Regions from separate parts of the Homo sapiens genome. Here region 2 is linked to region 1. A link means that fine-mapping ties the variant in region 1 to the expression of a gene that starts in the linked region. Tissue or cell type: thyroid. Region 1 holds a variant in brackets; the other region holds the start of a gene. All regions are shown on one strand. Distances are from middle to middle.

Evidence for each region. PIP is the estimated chance that this variant, and not a neighbour inherited with it, causes the effect.
Region 2: it holds the start of FAM78B, and the variant in region 1 is fine-mapped to the expression of FAM78B in thyroid (GTEx, PIP 0.98).

Annotation. Positions count from the first base shown.
Region 1 is chr1:166,195,398-166,203,581 of GRCh38, forward strand. The region is part of intron 1 of LOC112268276 (a long non-coding RNA gene); the gene reads left to right. Among named protein-coding and RNA genes, the nearest start is that of FAM78B, 32 kb to the left of the region's middle. The variant A/G (reference allele first, on the strand shown) is at 4,825.
Region 2 is chr1:166,163,587-166,171,770 of GRCh38, forward strand. It overlaps FAM78B (family with sequence similarity 78 member B), which reads right to left and starts at 3,415. Exons shown (of 2, transcript NM_001017961.5): 1 at 2,400-3,415. The coding sequence starts at 2,662. It overlaps LOC112268276 (a long non-coding RNA gene), which reads left to right and starts at 2,291. Exons shown (of 3, transcript XR_002958633.2): 1 at 2,291-2,468. RefSeq lists enhancers at 2,282-3,184, 2,356-2,525, 2,626-2,675, 6,590-6,669 and silencers at 3,066-3,125, 3,166-3,655, 5,690-5,749.

The sequences.
Region 1 (8,184 bases):
GGGCCTATATTCTGGCATTTTGATGGAATGGGTTTATTTTCTCAACCCTGGACACCAGTTGCTACTTGGGAAAGACAGCAGAGGAGTGAATCTCTCCCCTTTAGGCTCTTGGTAGCTCTGTAGAAAATCTGGCCACTGAGCTGGCCCAGGCTCTGTCATTGCCCTCCCTAATGGTTGTGTGTATGTGTGTGAGAGCGGGGGAGGGGGGAGAGAGAGAGAGTGTGTGCTTTAATTTCCTTACTCTCAGATGGGGATAGTGTTCTCTACCTTACTTGTTTCACAGGGTTGCTCTGAAAGTAAAATTATACAAAAAAGGAAAGTAAATATGACTGTGCTTAGAAAAAATGACTTATGACAATTTAAGATATTATTAATTAGTGATACTAAATCAGTATTACTCTGCATTCCCCTGAGATAGTGTAATCTAGTGGTTAAGACTCTGTTTTGGCTCTTACTAACCATGTGATTGTGGGCAAGTCACTTAATTTATTTGAGCCTCAGTTTCTTTATCTGTGAAAGAAAGATAACTTTACCTACTTCATACAGTTGCTGTGAGGTTTGAATAACTTATTACCAGTAAAGTGATTACCCTAGTGTCTAGCATATGGAAAGTGTTTACTTCATCAAGTGTTTGCTTTCCTTATTCCTGCCCTGCCCAAGAGGACTTTACAGCTCTTTGCAAATGCTTTTGTATAGAAATGACCTCCTGATCCTCTTATGACCCACTGAAAACCAAGAATATTTGCAAAATGGAGAGACAACATGGGCCCAAGGGAACAAAGCGTTGAAAGACCTAAATTTTAATTCTGGTACTTTGGCCAATTGGCCAGGTGATCTTAGACAGACTCTTTGTTTATGGTGGTTAGCATGTCTGCAATATGCAGATGAGGGAGCTGAGGTCCTGATTCATCCCTCCAAGCTAAAATAAATGCTCAAGTGTCTCCTACCTTTAAAAACCAACCAACCAACCAACCAACCAACCAACCAACCAACCAACCAATGAACGAACCAGCCAACCAATACTCAATCAAACATTTCAATAAAATATTTTCTCTTTTTGGTCATAGTCAAGCTTCTTAAAAGTTGTCTACATTAATCTCATCACTTTTTCACCTGGGTTCACTTCCTAACAACAAATATAGCAGTCTAATTTGGCCTTTACTACTTTGTTACACCTACTCTGGTTAAAATCTTCTCTTCATTGACAAAACCAATGGACAACTTTCAAACTTCATCTTCCTTAACTTTTAGACAAGAAGGCAATGACCTTCATGGATGATAAGTAACATTTTCAAGTTTGACTCCAGACATAGCAATTCTTGATGCTGAAATCAAAATTGCCATTTAAAGGGACTTTATTCTGCTGAAAGCATCCTATATTCAGATACAAAATGTGAATTATTCAAGTAATCAAGGAAACCAGGTCTACTAAAATATCTTACTGTGACATCAGACACCAAGAGTGAAGTCTGATGACAAGAAAATGATTAGAGCACAAAGCAATCTGTTGCTTTGTTCTTATATGAAATAGTGATGGTGAAGTAGGCACCTGCTGCCATTTGTACCTGATGGATCCTAATACATCTAATCATTCTACCTCTGTCCAATCAAAATGCATTTGTCCTGTGTCACATACCATCAAACCCTTCTTTGTTAAGAAGCCTCTACAAAGATCGAAGCAAAATGTAAAAAGTAGTCATTTGCATTTCAACAACATTTTCAAGGTATAATTTTAGGCACATAGGTAGGTGAGTATGGGCAATATTTTTGGTTACGGGTATCTTTTCCAAGCTCCCTGAAATCCCCACCTGGAGTCATTTGCCTTTTAATGGGACATTTGGTGAAGCTGCTAGCCTGAGCTGAGTGAGATCATTGTAGAGAAGGTTTATCATTCTCAGAAGCTGTCAAGATGATTAAATAGGGCTGTTGTGCAATAGGTCCCAAGCAACAGCAGCAATAGAGTGGGATAAACACTGGACTGGGAATCAGGGAACAGGTTCCATGACTCTGGCAAGTCTCTTCCACTCTCTTAGCCTTGGTATAGTCACTAGTAAAATGAGGGGCTGAATTAGATTATTTCTAAGGTCATGTCTAGTCAATGCTGAAGTCATTTTAAAAAACTTCCTCTCTCTACTGACTCTGCAGCTCTCCTCCTAATTTCTTTGACCTATTTTTACCTTGCCTGATTTTACCCCTACTTTCCAAATTGATTATTTCTTATCTCTCTGCCTTATCACTTACTTTCTAGCTAGTTCACTCAAAGATAAGCCCAGGAAATATGTATCTCACAAACAAATTGTCTCTTTCTTTGGAGATAGTATATCTCTCTGCTAGGTTAACAGCAGGGCAATTACGTGGCAAATCTGGGATGTGTCCAGATTATTCACACTTACAAAGCAAGGCTCTTTAGCCTGAACTCTTGGCCCTTTTCTGAAGTTGTTCACTGATGCTTGTGTGAAATGCCAGTTGGGTGACCAGGTTTGAAACCAGATAATTCCACTAGACTACAGGGTCCTATAGGGAGTAGACTACAATCTCCCCATGGCTCTGCTCTGAAAGGAATTTTCTCTAAAGATTTTCAAACTCTGGAGTTGATGAAACTGTTTATATATATTTTTTCTTGCTCTGGTTCCTCAAACCCAAGCTGACAGAGGGCTGGAGCCTGTAGACTGTGGTGATCCACCCACTAAACATGTCAACAAGAACTATACCCTCTTTCATGGGGCACATTTGGCATTAATATAATGAGCTTTTAAAAAATAAAAAATTAAAACCCTCACAATTAAAAATACTGTGAAATTTCAGAACATCAAGGATAAAGAGAATATACTAAAAACTTTCCTTGTAGGGTTGACAGATAAAATATAGGACACCAGTTAAATTTGAAGTTCATATAAACAATGAATAATTTTTTTTTAGATTAAGCACGTCCCCAATATTTCATTGTTTATCTGAAAGGTAATTTTAATCAGATGTTCTGTATTTTTATTTGCTAAATGTGTCTATCCTATTTCCTAGAATAAAGCTAGATCGCCCAAATATAGCATCAGTAACAGTGGGTGGTAAAAGGCAATATGAGTGCTGCTTTCAAAATTCCAAGACACAATCATTTTTCAACCCAGAATCCCATATCTACCCAACTCATCAACGAAGTATAAGGGGGAAATTAAAACACTGAAAGACATTCAATGACTCAGAAACATTATTTCCATAATACATATCTTAGAAAATCATCCAGTGTGTGTTCTAGTAAAAGCAGGGAGTAAATCAAAGGAGAAAGACATGGGGTCCATGATAGTATGACTCAGGTTCAGAAAATCAGTTAAGGGCTACCTAAGATGACGTGTGCTCAGTGGAACTCAGGTAACAGGTAAGCTTCTTTGACTGAAAGTAACAGAAAATCCAACTCAAATTGGCATGAAAACGATAACAAAAAGGCAGGGAGGGCTCTCAGGTTGATTTAATGGTTCGAAGATCAATGAAGATCCAGGCTTTCACTGTCTCTCTGTTCTGCCATCCTTGGTATTGGCTTCTCCAAAGGCTGCTTTTCCTCTTGGTCAAGATGACTGCCAGAGCAACCTAAGCAATGCTTTTTGTTTGTACCTAGTGGGAGAGTACTGACTTCTCCTTCCCAGCAAGTCTCTCCTCACATCCCATTTGCCCAAAGTGGCCTACAGCTGCCCATTCCCAGAAGTGTCTAGCAAAGGAGATGGAGTAGCTTTGATTCTTCCATTCAGTGTCAACTGTGTATGAGGCGCTGTTCTAAGCACTGATGATAAGGCAGAAAGTAAAACAGACAAAACTTCCAACTTTTACAGAGCTCAGATTTAGGAAAACAGACAATAGACAAAGTAAGTATGTAAAATATCTGTATGCTATATGGTCGTACGTGCTGGTGAGACAAAGCAGAAGAGAGACTAGGTAGTATTTGGGAGGGTGATTAAATTTTAGGGAAGGTGTTCAGGAAAATCCTCACTAAGAATGTAATGGGGGAATCAACCACACTCTTTCTATGACACGTACAGAACAAAACATCCAGGTCAAAGCGGAGGGATGTAGAGCCTGGGGAAAGAGGTCTCCTGGGCAAAAGGGGGACTTCCTAGAAAACTTGATATAATGGAAAGTTTAAAAATAATGTTAGAATCAGGAGAAATAAAAACGTGTAGGAAAGAAATTATACTCATAGAATACTACTTGGCTCCTCCATGAATTAACGTTTACATAGTCACAATACTGTAAATGCTGTTATTAGTTTTAGTATTTTAGAATGAATTGTTGGAAAAAGTATTGATGATGGAATTATGATTACCAAGCCAAATGTAAATGTTATCAACTTGAATCCTCTAAGGTTGCAATCCTGAAGATGGGAGGTAGAAGAGCTTAGGGCAAGGCTAAGAGCACCAGGGTTCTTTTTGTACCCACTGCAGTGTTAAGAGAGACTATCTATGTTTGGCAAAATAAGAAGACATAGTGTATGTTTATTACTTAAACTTTCAAAAGGAAGGAAACAATACAGGAACCAGGAACTAAATATAGTGCTATAATTGTATTGGGAAATTGGGGAGGAAAGATGGGAGGTGATATAAATGAGTTAAATCTTTTAGAAACTCATATACACCATAGAACCACAAAAGAACTACAGTATTTCTATGTGACTATAGAATAAACATGTTGAGTTAGTGGGTTGACTTTGGGAAGGTAAGACTGAAGGTGAGAGCAAAAGGCAAACTATTGTTTTTGTTGCTAGTTCTTTGGCAAAATTTGACTTTTGAACTATGTGCATTCATTACTTTGACTTAAAAAAAAGTCTGCTCTCCATTCTAG[A/G]ATTTTTTTCTATATTCTTAAAATTGACACATGCTTATTATGGAAAAGTTTGAAAATATGGAAAATTGTCCAGTATTTAAAGGCAATTCTTAAAACTATTGGTATATTTTCCTTCACTCTTTTAAAATTGATTACATTTATACACATTTGTGATTATGTTGAGTTAGGATACATTTTGGTGCATTCAAATTCATGAATCTAAATTGATTAGCTTAGATTCCATACATAATTTTTATCATTTTACATCCCCATCAGGATTGAAAAGAAGAACAAAACAAACATATTAAAGTCTTTGTATGAGAGATGTTTGACATTAAATAGTGGCAGTAAAATTAGCCAGTTCATCAAGGAAACTAGATCCCAGCAAGCTGAAGTCAAGTTCACACTGTTATTCAGTGAGAGCTGTTAACTACTAGCCGAAACTAAATGACAGATTTGTTTTATATCTGAAAATGATAACATAGGCATCTTATACAATGAAGACATGGATACATATCCTGCCTTCCTCACTGGTCTTGGCTCCCACTCCTCCCAACCTCGCTCAAAGCCCAAGCCACTCACATCTAGCTGTGTATCTCCAAACACACCAGGCTTCCTCCTGGTTTGTGCTTCAGCCATGCTGTTTCCTTTTCTTGAAATCCTTTTTCCAATCTAGTTGCCCTGGACAAAATGTTATCAATCCTTTAAGTCTCCTGTGATGCTTAGCTAACTCCTTCTAGCTAACTCAGCAAAATGGATATTTTGCTGCTTCTTTTCCTTGTGCAACCACTGAACTTGATCCATGCCATGACTAGCGTATTCATGGTGTGGAGTGAAGAGTATGAGTGTAGAGTCAGACTGTCTGAGCTTGGCTTCCAGCTCCACCTCTAACTGACCATGTGAACTTGGGCAAGCCACTTACCCACTTTGATCCTCAGTTTACTCATCTGTAAAATGACATTAATAATAATACTTACCTCAGTGGTTATGGTAAGAATTAAGATAATCAATACAGGAAAAGCACTTGGCAGGGTGACTGGCCTACAGTAAGTGCTCAGAAACATATGCTATTATTATTTGTTGTTGTAGCTGCTGCTGTAATGATTAGCTTGCATGTCCAGCCATTGAGGTTAGTGACTGTAACATTTCATCTTTATCTACTCTGTCTCACTTTAGAATCTGGCATTGTGTCCTTGAAAAATTGTGTAGACTGATTGAATAAGTGAACAATTTAGAGTGAATTCAGCTGCCTTTGCTTTTATAACTATTATTTTAAGGATGGTAGTTCTAACAGTAGACCTCAGAGTCATGCAAAAAGCTAACCAGCATTAATTCAGTGAAGCAATATTTTTTCTACTTAAAACAAAGAACCACTTCCTGAATACATTTACTGTATTTTCAGCTCTGAGATGGAGCTGAAAATACAGGAACGATAGGGGAGGTCTCCTAGCAATGCAAGACCTTGCCTCTGTCCTATAATATTTTTTGGAGTCATAGAGAAACAGGTATTGCCAGTCTATATAGATTCAGAACTAAATGGGATAATGCATTTCAAAGAGATATGAAGAAATCCAAACCACAGGAAGCATCATTAAAGTACTTTTAAATTATGTTATGAAATATAACTATTTGGGTTTTCCATGTTATTGCTTTACTTTCTTCTGTATAGGATTATTATTAATAAGCCAGGGAGATTTCCCTTGAAGCCCAATTATATTTAACACCTTTGCAGTGATGCATGACTGACTTATGACCTCAGGAGTAAGTTCTGATGGTGGTTCTGTTCTGATGATGTGGCCCCACCTGTCTGCACCTTATCCCAGAACCAAAGCTCCATTTGCTCCACTATTACAGTGAGAAGGCACTTCAATCCCCCTGCAAGAGAATCAGGTTCTGATGGCAATTATTTGAGTCTGACTCCACGCAAGACACTTCAGTAGATACTTGGGAGAATAATATTTGTCCTGCTTATCTCCAAAGGCTGCTGGAAGACTCCGGTGAGCCATTTTATAAAGTACAAAGTGATCTACAAATACAAGGTCTTATTATTATTAAAAACACATCTCATCTTCCACTGGAACGTTTAGATAAAGGAGTGTGGGGTGTAATAAAGAACTAAGCTAGAGCGAGAGAAACACTGAAAAACTAATTACGAAATGTCACACAAGTACCACAAAGAGAGTGATTACTTGATTAATTAATGATAGGAACCCTACATTTAAGTCTTTCAGTTATACTTGCATCAGTCCTCTTTGCCTATCAGAATGCGGTTTGTTTCTGCCAACGAATAACTATCAAACCACTGAGGCCTAACTGATGTGTGATTAATGTGGGCTCCATTAATTGTGTGGCTGAGTTTTATGCATGAAGCTGTATCCTTGATTTTTCACCTTTAATTTCCTCCTGTTTAACTGCTGGTCATAAAATTGTTTCAAATGTATCTGCTGAGTCTGAGAGCAAGTTTTGCAACTTGAAAAGTGCCTGAGTCAGTTTGGGCATCTTGTTTGGTAAAACCGACTTGGGGGAACTCTTAACGCTGTAAGATGAATTGCTACTTGGCTTCCACTCCCAGCCCTGCTGGCTCCCTTCCTGCCACTGCTCACTGGCACTGCATCTCATCTATTATCATTAAGCACATGCATAGCATTGATAATGGCAAAAGGCTTAATAACTTTCTTTCTGATAGCCCATCATATGTGGCTCTATTCAACCTTATTTTAGACAGCTAGAGATGATGACATCTGTCTTTCTGGTCTTTTTCACATTCATTTACCATCTCTGTTAATATCACCTGATTTTCTTTTGGGGCAGCACCCCTTCCCATCTCTGCTTTTATTTTCTGTGTTTCAAGTAGGGCTGGTCTCATTTCCCTGGCTCCGGAGCTAGGCCTGGACAATTAGAATTCCAGTGATTGGTTCGGGGATAGGCATGTGACCCAAGCTCGGTCAACTCTCGGTCAACTAGAGAGACAACCTAGGTCAACTAGACAGGCAACCCTAGGACTTTAGCAGGAACTATTAGGAGGAAATAAAAAAAAAAAAGCTCTTTGTCCTCTTGGGTTTTTAGATTGCTAAAATACTAAATCTAGATCTTCCGGTCTCTTTGTCACTGCTGAAGAAGAACCCAGCTGAGAATGAAGCCAACACAGAGAAAAAGAGAGCCAAGAGATGGAGAGAGACAAACTCCTGCTGACATTGTTTGAATACGTGGATTCAGTTGTGCCTAAAGACAAGCCTGGGCCTGTACTTTTCTATTGTGTGAGCCGTTTGAATAGGATTTTGTCACTTATAACCAAGAGTACTGATTCAAATGATGATGCTGGTCACCATACCTTTCTGCCTTAGTATGTCATATATGTACAGAGACTTAAGAAAATTAGAA
Region 2 (8,184 bases), 32 kb before region 1:
ATGCTATTTTTTACAATCCAGATATTGGCTAAAGTAGACATAATAACTAATAGACTGCAGCAACTTTCATGCAATATGAATTCCCATTAAAAAGTTTACACTAGCAAAATTTTCCAGGCATAAATATCTTGTGGAAATTGGTTCATTCAAATTTGGGCTCCAAAGTGGCCTTTAACACATAGCAATTATTGCAACCATGAAGAAACAGGTAGACTGTGGACACAAATCTATAATAATATGCTTTATGATTTATTGGGGGTCTATTTTTGCTCTCCTACATCTACATGAAAACCAAGAATCTTAAAATATCAAAAGTGGCAGTTTAAAAACAAAACCACTTTCCAAATCCCAAATGCAAGGATTCAGTGGGGAAGGGTCAGGAATCCTGTCACTGATTCATATCCATTAAAGTTGGTTCCAGTGAGGACATACCTTCCCTATAGATTCCAGGAAGTTCAACTACCATGTCTGTTTATATCTCAACTTGACTTCTCCTAAGGTAAAGTAAGTTTTACGGAAATAATTCTGTATTTATATATTTGCTTTTACTTATTCATAAGAGATTTGAGGCAACAGAGAGTTCCGCTGTGCAGTCTTGGGAAAAGTGAGGCTGCTTCTGCACAGTCACTCCTGGCTTCCTCTACCAGGGGCCCCAGGCTGCTGTGGGGAGCACTTGCTGTCCTCCAGCAACCCACTGCCATCAGGGTGAGGCCAGGGAAATGAGAGGAAGGGCTCTTGCCCTGCCTGTGGCTTTCTCTGACTTGGCTGGAAACAATGGATTTATTTTAAAAAGCAGTTTTAAGAGACACATGTGTTCACATATAATCATTCTTTTGAGGGTATGTCAGTTTTTAAATGGCATGATTCGCCCCAAATAAAATATCCCCCATTTCTCACATCTAGCTGTCTTCTCTGGAAGAATACAGTGTGCTGAGGCATATTGGAAACTGGGCCTCACATTTCTTCACTAGGAATTGAGTTTTCTCAAGGATTAAGCTTTTGTGCTTAAAGAGAAAAGTGCAAAATCTTTGGGAGGAAAAAAGGAAAACAACGACCTGTCAAATTTCTTTTAGCGCCTATGACTAGTGTTAACTGACATGCTCTCAGAGTGCAATAAAAAGCCTGCAAACTGCTGCTAAAAAGATGGTTTGACCTTTTAAAATGGGAACTCCCCCACCCCATATCCATATTAAATAGACGAACCTTGGGAGCTCTAGAGTTTTAGATTAATAAGTGAAATGAGGTTGAATTTCCAGAAAAAGGGTTTCCCTGTAGGCTGCAGACTGGCTAATTAGGGTGTTCTAGACCTACATTGTAACAGCAGGTAGAAGGCAGGCCCTAAACCTTTTAGCTATTGTCGTTGCCACCTGCTCAGAGTCTAGTTCTGAAAGGAGGCGGGTGCGGAGTTATGAAAATTTGGTAAATATAAAAGTCCCGGACGCGACCGCCCGTAGCCTGCGGCCCCTGGCGGTTGAGGAGCCGCGGCGATCCTTGGTCTTCACCGCAGCAGCCAAGCCCGGCGCGCACCAACCGGCGCTGCTGAAAGTTGGAGAGCTCCCAGCTCGCCGATAGAATTCGGCGGTGGGCGCCAGGGGAATCCCTTCCAGTGCCGCAATTAGGAAAGTTTTAAAAAGTAAGGACCCTAGACAGACAAGAGATCCATCCTTTCCTTTAGCATAAGAAACACCCCGCGCCGCGCCAGCCGAACGCTGCTCGCACAAGGCTATCCGCCCTTCTTGGCCGGGACGCACTCGGTGCCTTCCAGCTCCCCACCAGAACTGGTCCAGGGGGCGCGGAAACAGAGAGGCAACTGTGTCCGGCTTGTGGTTCCAGACGGAAACGCCTCCGGGCTCCCTGGCCCGGGGGACAAGGGTTCGAAACTTCAACAGTCGCGAGGGCAAGGACAGAACTACCAACTCCCGCTCGGATGCCCGGGACCTGCTCTTCCAAGCCCGCTCCGGTTTCTCCAAAGGACGCGCGGCACAGCCCATGCGCCCCCGGCACTCCACTCCACTCCTCTATGGTTTCCCCCAAACTCTTCCCGGGGAGCCCCACAAAGCACAGACGGCGCCCTGAAACTCGCCAGGCACTCGCCAGCCATCCCCACCTCCGCCTCTCGAACCCTCCTTGTCGCGTTCTTCCCGCCCCGCACCTTTCTCCTCGCGTTTCTGGGAAGTCAGAAGCAAACCACGAGAAAATGCCTTCGCAAGGAGCCTCCCTACACCCGCCCTGTCACTGAAACAAAAGCGTAGGGAGGAGGGAGGTGGGAGAGGAGGCGGGAGGAAGGTTTAGAAAGACGATGGGGACAGCAGTAGGAAGGAGCTGGGGAGGGGGGTCAAGGTGGCAAGCAGAGCTGGGGGCCCAGAGTCCGCTCCCGTGCCGCGCGGCGAGTCGCTTACATGCCCAGGTCGCTGTAGGTGTTGAAGAACTCCATCTGATTGCACGCCTGAATCCAGCCCACCACCCAGGTCTCGTGGCGGGGGATGGGGGGCATGACCACGCGGGCGGAGGCTTTGAAGTAGGGGGTCTTGTAGCGCAGGACGATGGGCGAGGTCTCCTCGATGCGCGTGGGGCACTGGTCGATGGTGGCGCACACATCGTACACCACGATGTTCTCGCGCCGGATCCGCGCCTTGCAGGTGATGCTTTGGATACAGCCCATCCTGCAGCCCGGTGCCGGCACGGCGCGGCGTGGGGCAGCGCGGGGGCCCGCGCGGGCAGCCGGGGGCGCCCGTCACGCCGGCATGGCGACGCGCCGCTCGCTCCCGGTCAGACTCAGCTCGCACCTAGGAGCGGGGAGCCGCCGGGCATCCTTGGGGAAGCCCCCTCCTCTTGCAGCCGCGCGGGGTCCCCGCTGCCCCGACGTCCGCCCACGCCCGCCCCCTCGCTCCGGCAGGGCGCGCGGAGGGTGCACTCCTAGGAGGCGGCGGGTGCCCTCGCCGGCTCCAGCGCCCGGGCGGAGGGCAGGGAGGGGAGCGGCGCTGCGAGGAATGGTGCCCACCCCGGGCCGGAGCCCCCCGCCCCTCGCCGGAGAGGAGGAGGCGGCAGCGGCGGCGGCATGGAGCCGGGGGAGGGCGGCGGTGGCAGCGCCCGGTCTGTCTGCCTCCGCGGCGGCAGCAGCAGCAGCCGCCGCCGCCGCCGCCGCTGCATGAACCTCTGCACCACGGCTGCCCCCCGCGTGCAGCGCACCCAGCGGCGGGCGAGCGGGCGGCCCAAGAGGCAGGCGGAGGCAGCAGCGGCGGCGGCGGCGACCGGAGCTCCCGCCGGCCCCGCCCCGTAGCCGGACCACACCGACACTCCTCGGCCCGGCTGCCTCGGCCCGGGGGGCGCCAGGAGGCTGTGGCCCGGGGTGGAGAGCCCCAACGGCTGGAGCAGCACAGGACGTGCTCCGCGGAGGAAACTGGCTGTACGCCATGAGTTTTGTCCCTATTCGGCTGCCGTCCGGGTGGGGGGGGGGTAATGTGTAAGGGTGGGGGTGTTTAAAGGGCCGCTAGCGCCGGGGTGGGGCCCCGCACGTGGGGCTGAGGCGGGGCGGGGCCCTGGTAGGTGGTGCCCTGGGGTGGGGGTGGGGGACTAGGGCGGGCCCAAGCGCCACCGGGTGGGTGAGGCCGAGCAGGGCGCGGCGCTGTCCAGAGTCCAGTGGGGAACCCGGTAGCCCAGTAGGGGCTGTAGAGTGAGTGTTTCGGGCAGCAGAAGGGTTAGGGGAACAGCTTTATCAGAGATTGGTCGTTATTCAGAATATAGCTTGTTGGATTAGATTTAGGCTTGAGCCCTTTTAGTATCCTACCTTCAGAAAGGGTGAAGGGCGGGCTCCAGCAGCGTTACTAAATGCAGTGTATTTGCCTCTTTGCCTGACTGGGTTTGTTCTGGAAGCTCTTCTTTCCACCACTGTGTGTAGTGGGGATACCGGAAGAATCCCTCCGTACTCCAGCACTAAGTCTCTCATATGCCAGAGTTTTGGCAGACATTGGGCATTGTGTACAGTATGACCACGGTCATGTGTCTGATACTGCAGTCTAATGTGCCAAACAGGAAGAATATTTAGCAGATGCTTTTACTAGGCATCTTCTTACATTTTTATTTTCAAAGCCAATAGCTTCTAAGTATTTCTTCTGCGATCATTGAACATTTGCTGGATCTGCTGCCCAAGTGTGAAATACTGACTAACAGGCCGCAGGAGGTGCTAGAGTTAGTCTTTAGCTAGGACAGGTGTGACGAGTAATTTAAAAATTGATTGAGATCTAAAAGCACTCTTCATCCTTGTTTTAACTGTTCTGACACCTTGGTTCACTTTATAGTTAACAAAAAAGCAGTTTTTCCCTTTGATGACTCGTCTCTCTCATTTTACCGTGTAGCCACAGACCTCAATCACTGGTCCTTTCATTCAGCAAAGGCTGACTGCCTGCCTGGCAGGAGCCAAACATAGTGCTAGGTACTAGGGATTCAAAGTTGAAAAAGAGCACATGGATCACTGGAGAAAATAAACCTGTTAACAAGTTATTATAGTAAACTGTGACACCTGCTTTAGTGGGGTTGTGTATCCAGTGCCGTGGAAGGCCAGACATGTAAATCTCTGGCCACATGTAAATCCCTCAGTGGTCAGAGAGCCACTCAGTGGCTCTCTGGCCACTGAGAGATTTACGTGTGACTTTGCTCAAGTAGTGACATTTAAATTGAATACTGACAGACTGTAGAGTCTCACTGAAAAGAGAAAGGTGAATGAGTAGTACAGGACCAGCATTTGGCAAATGCAAAATGCATAGAGATATGAAAGAACTCATCCTGTACTGAGGGGGAGAAACAACTCACAGTCAAGGCATTTCTCAAGGTGTTATGTGTCGACCATGGGCATCAGAATCACTGTCCAAGAATCAATTGGTTGTTGATAGACCATATCTTTTTTCTTTTTAAAATTAAGACTACAGACTTTATTTTGATTTTACTAGTTTTTCCACTAATGTCTTTTTTTCTCTAGAATCTAATCCAAGATATGATGTTGCATTTAGTCATTACATCTCCTTATTCTTCTCAATCTGTGACAGCTTCTCAGTCTTTCTCTGTTTTTCATGACCTTGACATTTTTAAAGAGGACTGGTCAGATATTCTGTAGAATTGTTCCTCATTTGCATTTATCTGATGTTTCCTCATGATTAGACCAGGGTTTTGGATTTGGGGGATGAATACCATGAAGATGAAGTGCCTTCTCATTGCATTATGTCAGGGGTACATGATAGCAATATGACTTTTTACTGGTGTTATTAACCTTGATCACTGGGTTTGGTGAATAATTTTTTTAACTTTTAGGTTCAGAGGTACAGGTGCAGGTTTGTTATATAGGTAAATTGCATGTCATAGGGGTTTGTTGGACAGATTATTTTATCACCCTGGTAATGAGGATAGTACCCAATAGGTATTTTTTTTTTATCCTCTGCCTCCTCCTACCCTTCACCCTCTAGTAGGGCCCAGTGTCTTCTCTTGATAGGACCTTATCTTAAACTTCAGTGGAAGCCAATGAAGGCAAGCCATGCATTTTGAGAAAAATTACTCTGCATCCATATAGAGAATAGAGGAGGCAGCGTTTCAGAATATTGTGATGACAGATACTTTGACCCTCGGCTAGCTTGGGGCAGTGCTGTGGGGCTGGAGAGGCCTGGCTGCATTTGCATTTAAGAATCACTTAGGAGGTAAATGTATTTACTTGGTAACTGAACAAGGTGATAGAAGGGGAAGCAGCTTGGGACTGTGGGTGATGTCATGTTAAGTTCGAGGTTCTTGGAGGTATTTGGGGGGCAGGGTGGGGTCAGAGTTTGAGTTTCAGTGGTTATTAGGTTCCAGGCAATAGACCAAAAGGAAAGCATTTCATTGGGGAATGTAGTTATGTTTCTTAATTTGAGTTGCTTGTCAGGCTGCAGTTTTGTGGATAAATAACTCCTTTGTCTTCTGGTGACACATGTTAAACCTTCATAAACGGGGAGGGGAATGGCAGCCTTTCCCAAAATATAGGGAAATCACATAAGGAAGAATATCTTATTTTTCAAACTTAAAATAAGATTTTGTTATATTTAGTAAAGCCAATAAAATGTAACATTATTCATGGACTTGGACCCTTGACATTCTCAGAGGGTTCATCCATGACCTTGGTGAGTCTCCAAAATCATGAATGTCATCATGGCATATAATTTCCACCATAAAGTACGGTAAAGTGTAGCTGAAAAATGTAAAGAATCTTTTTAGACTCTTAATGGTTCTATGAATATGGGGCCAAAGTAATTTCTAAAGCTACTTAAATAAATTTTGCCATTAAAATAAACTTCTTACTTCATTACCTTATATCTTTACCTTATTAACGCCCTATTTCCCTGACTCTGTGAAGAAAAAATTGATCACAGTATGAGAATTATTGTGCGGATGTCGATGAGAAAGTAAGGAGAGCTAAGTGGTACTGGGACACAAATGCCAGTGTTAGGAGTGGTCATTCACTAGCTGAGTGGCTGGCAAGTACACTCTGGCCTCCTGGCAGCCCCATTCAAATTTGTGTCTCAGCAAATTACCTCATGACAGGGACCTTTTGGATTACTCACTGGGGGTTTTTATCATTCATGCATATTCAGTCTGCAAATGCCAATGCAGGGCTATCTGTAGCTCAAATGAAATCCCCAGAATTTGCAACAGTTTCTCTGTGCTGCTCTTCTAAGTTTCTCTTTCTGTCTCCTCATGGTAAGTCCCTTGCTTCTATTAACACCTTTAAAGCTGTTTCACAGTTCCTTGCTCACACTTGTCTCTCCCAATAAGCTGTTCACTCCTCAAGAGAATGCACCATCGTGCCCTGTTGCCCAGCCTAGTGCGTGGCACCTAGGTGCTGCTCAATAAACATTTGAATGACTAAAAGTATTCTTAAAAATCCAATACAACATTTCCCATACATCATATTTAGTAGAATGCCAATAAAATGTAACATGATTCACAGACATGGACCCTTGACATTCCCTATAAGCTTCCCTATAAGCTCTGTCTCAATACCTGCAGCAAGCATATGTTTTTATTCTAATTCTTTCTGCACTGTACCTCTTTGTCCCCCCACTCTTTTCTTAATGTGGCTCCTTGATGTTAAGTGATGCCCTTTGTCTTCGAGCACTATACATGATCTCAAGGGTTATCAGTTCTAGACACCACGAAAATGGGAAAGCTCCAATGACAAGACCTTGACAACAATCATTCCTTGTGAATAACTTCATTGGAGTTCATTCTCAGGGCACAGAACAAATGATCCTTTGTACTTCAAGCTTCTGATGTTCTTGGGCATGACAGAGCTCCTCAGTTCCCTGAGTTAGAGCTGTGCTGTGCACTCTCCAGGATGTTGGCCTCTGTGTCCCCTTTACAATCCACTCCTTTAGCTGTAGATGACTCGGTCCTTCCAGAAGCAGGGTGATCTCTGACTTTATTTTTCCTCTTGATTGACTCATTACTCAATTTGTCAAGTGAGCTTTTTAGAAACTCTGGGTCACAAGGGCCTATTTTCTAGTTGACCTTGGCAAGGGTTTTCAGAGACTATAGAACAGACTACCAAGAGATGTTGAGGAATTGCCTCTGGAGCTGTTAAAAACAGACATGGATTTCCGTCTCACTTAGATGGCCCAAAGACAGGCAAGAGGTTAGCCTCAGGCCCAAGACTGCAGGATTGAGGAAACAGCTCCTTCTTGATTGTGAGCTCTCCCTACCACTACTTCAGAGCCAGGGTTACTAATTTCTCTTCTAGAACAGGCTAAGAAACTCAACATGGAGTGGAATATGGCAAGGGACTCAGGCACTTTGCAGAAGTCATTCAGCCCAAGATGTGGCAGCTATTGTGTGGTTCAAGTAGTCAATATTTATCAAGCTTTTTCCACTAGCCTTGCATTAGATTAGGCCACAGAAACTATGAAGAAGGATACCTTGGTTCCTCAGCTATTCTGTTGTAGGTCTGCTGTGCCTATCTCTGCTGCTTTCAAAGTCCTTTTCTCTGTCCTGATCTGTCAGATTTGGCACTCTTGAAAGAAAACTACTTTTAATCCCGTGATTCTGCAAATCCTGATTCTTCTCTTAGCTTCTCTGACTCCTCTTGCTTTCCTCATTTTCCAGGGTCATACTTCCTAAGGGTCTCCCCTCTTCTTCCTGAACTCCCTCAGGGTATTTATCCATGTTTTA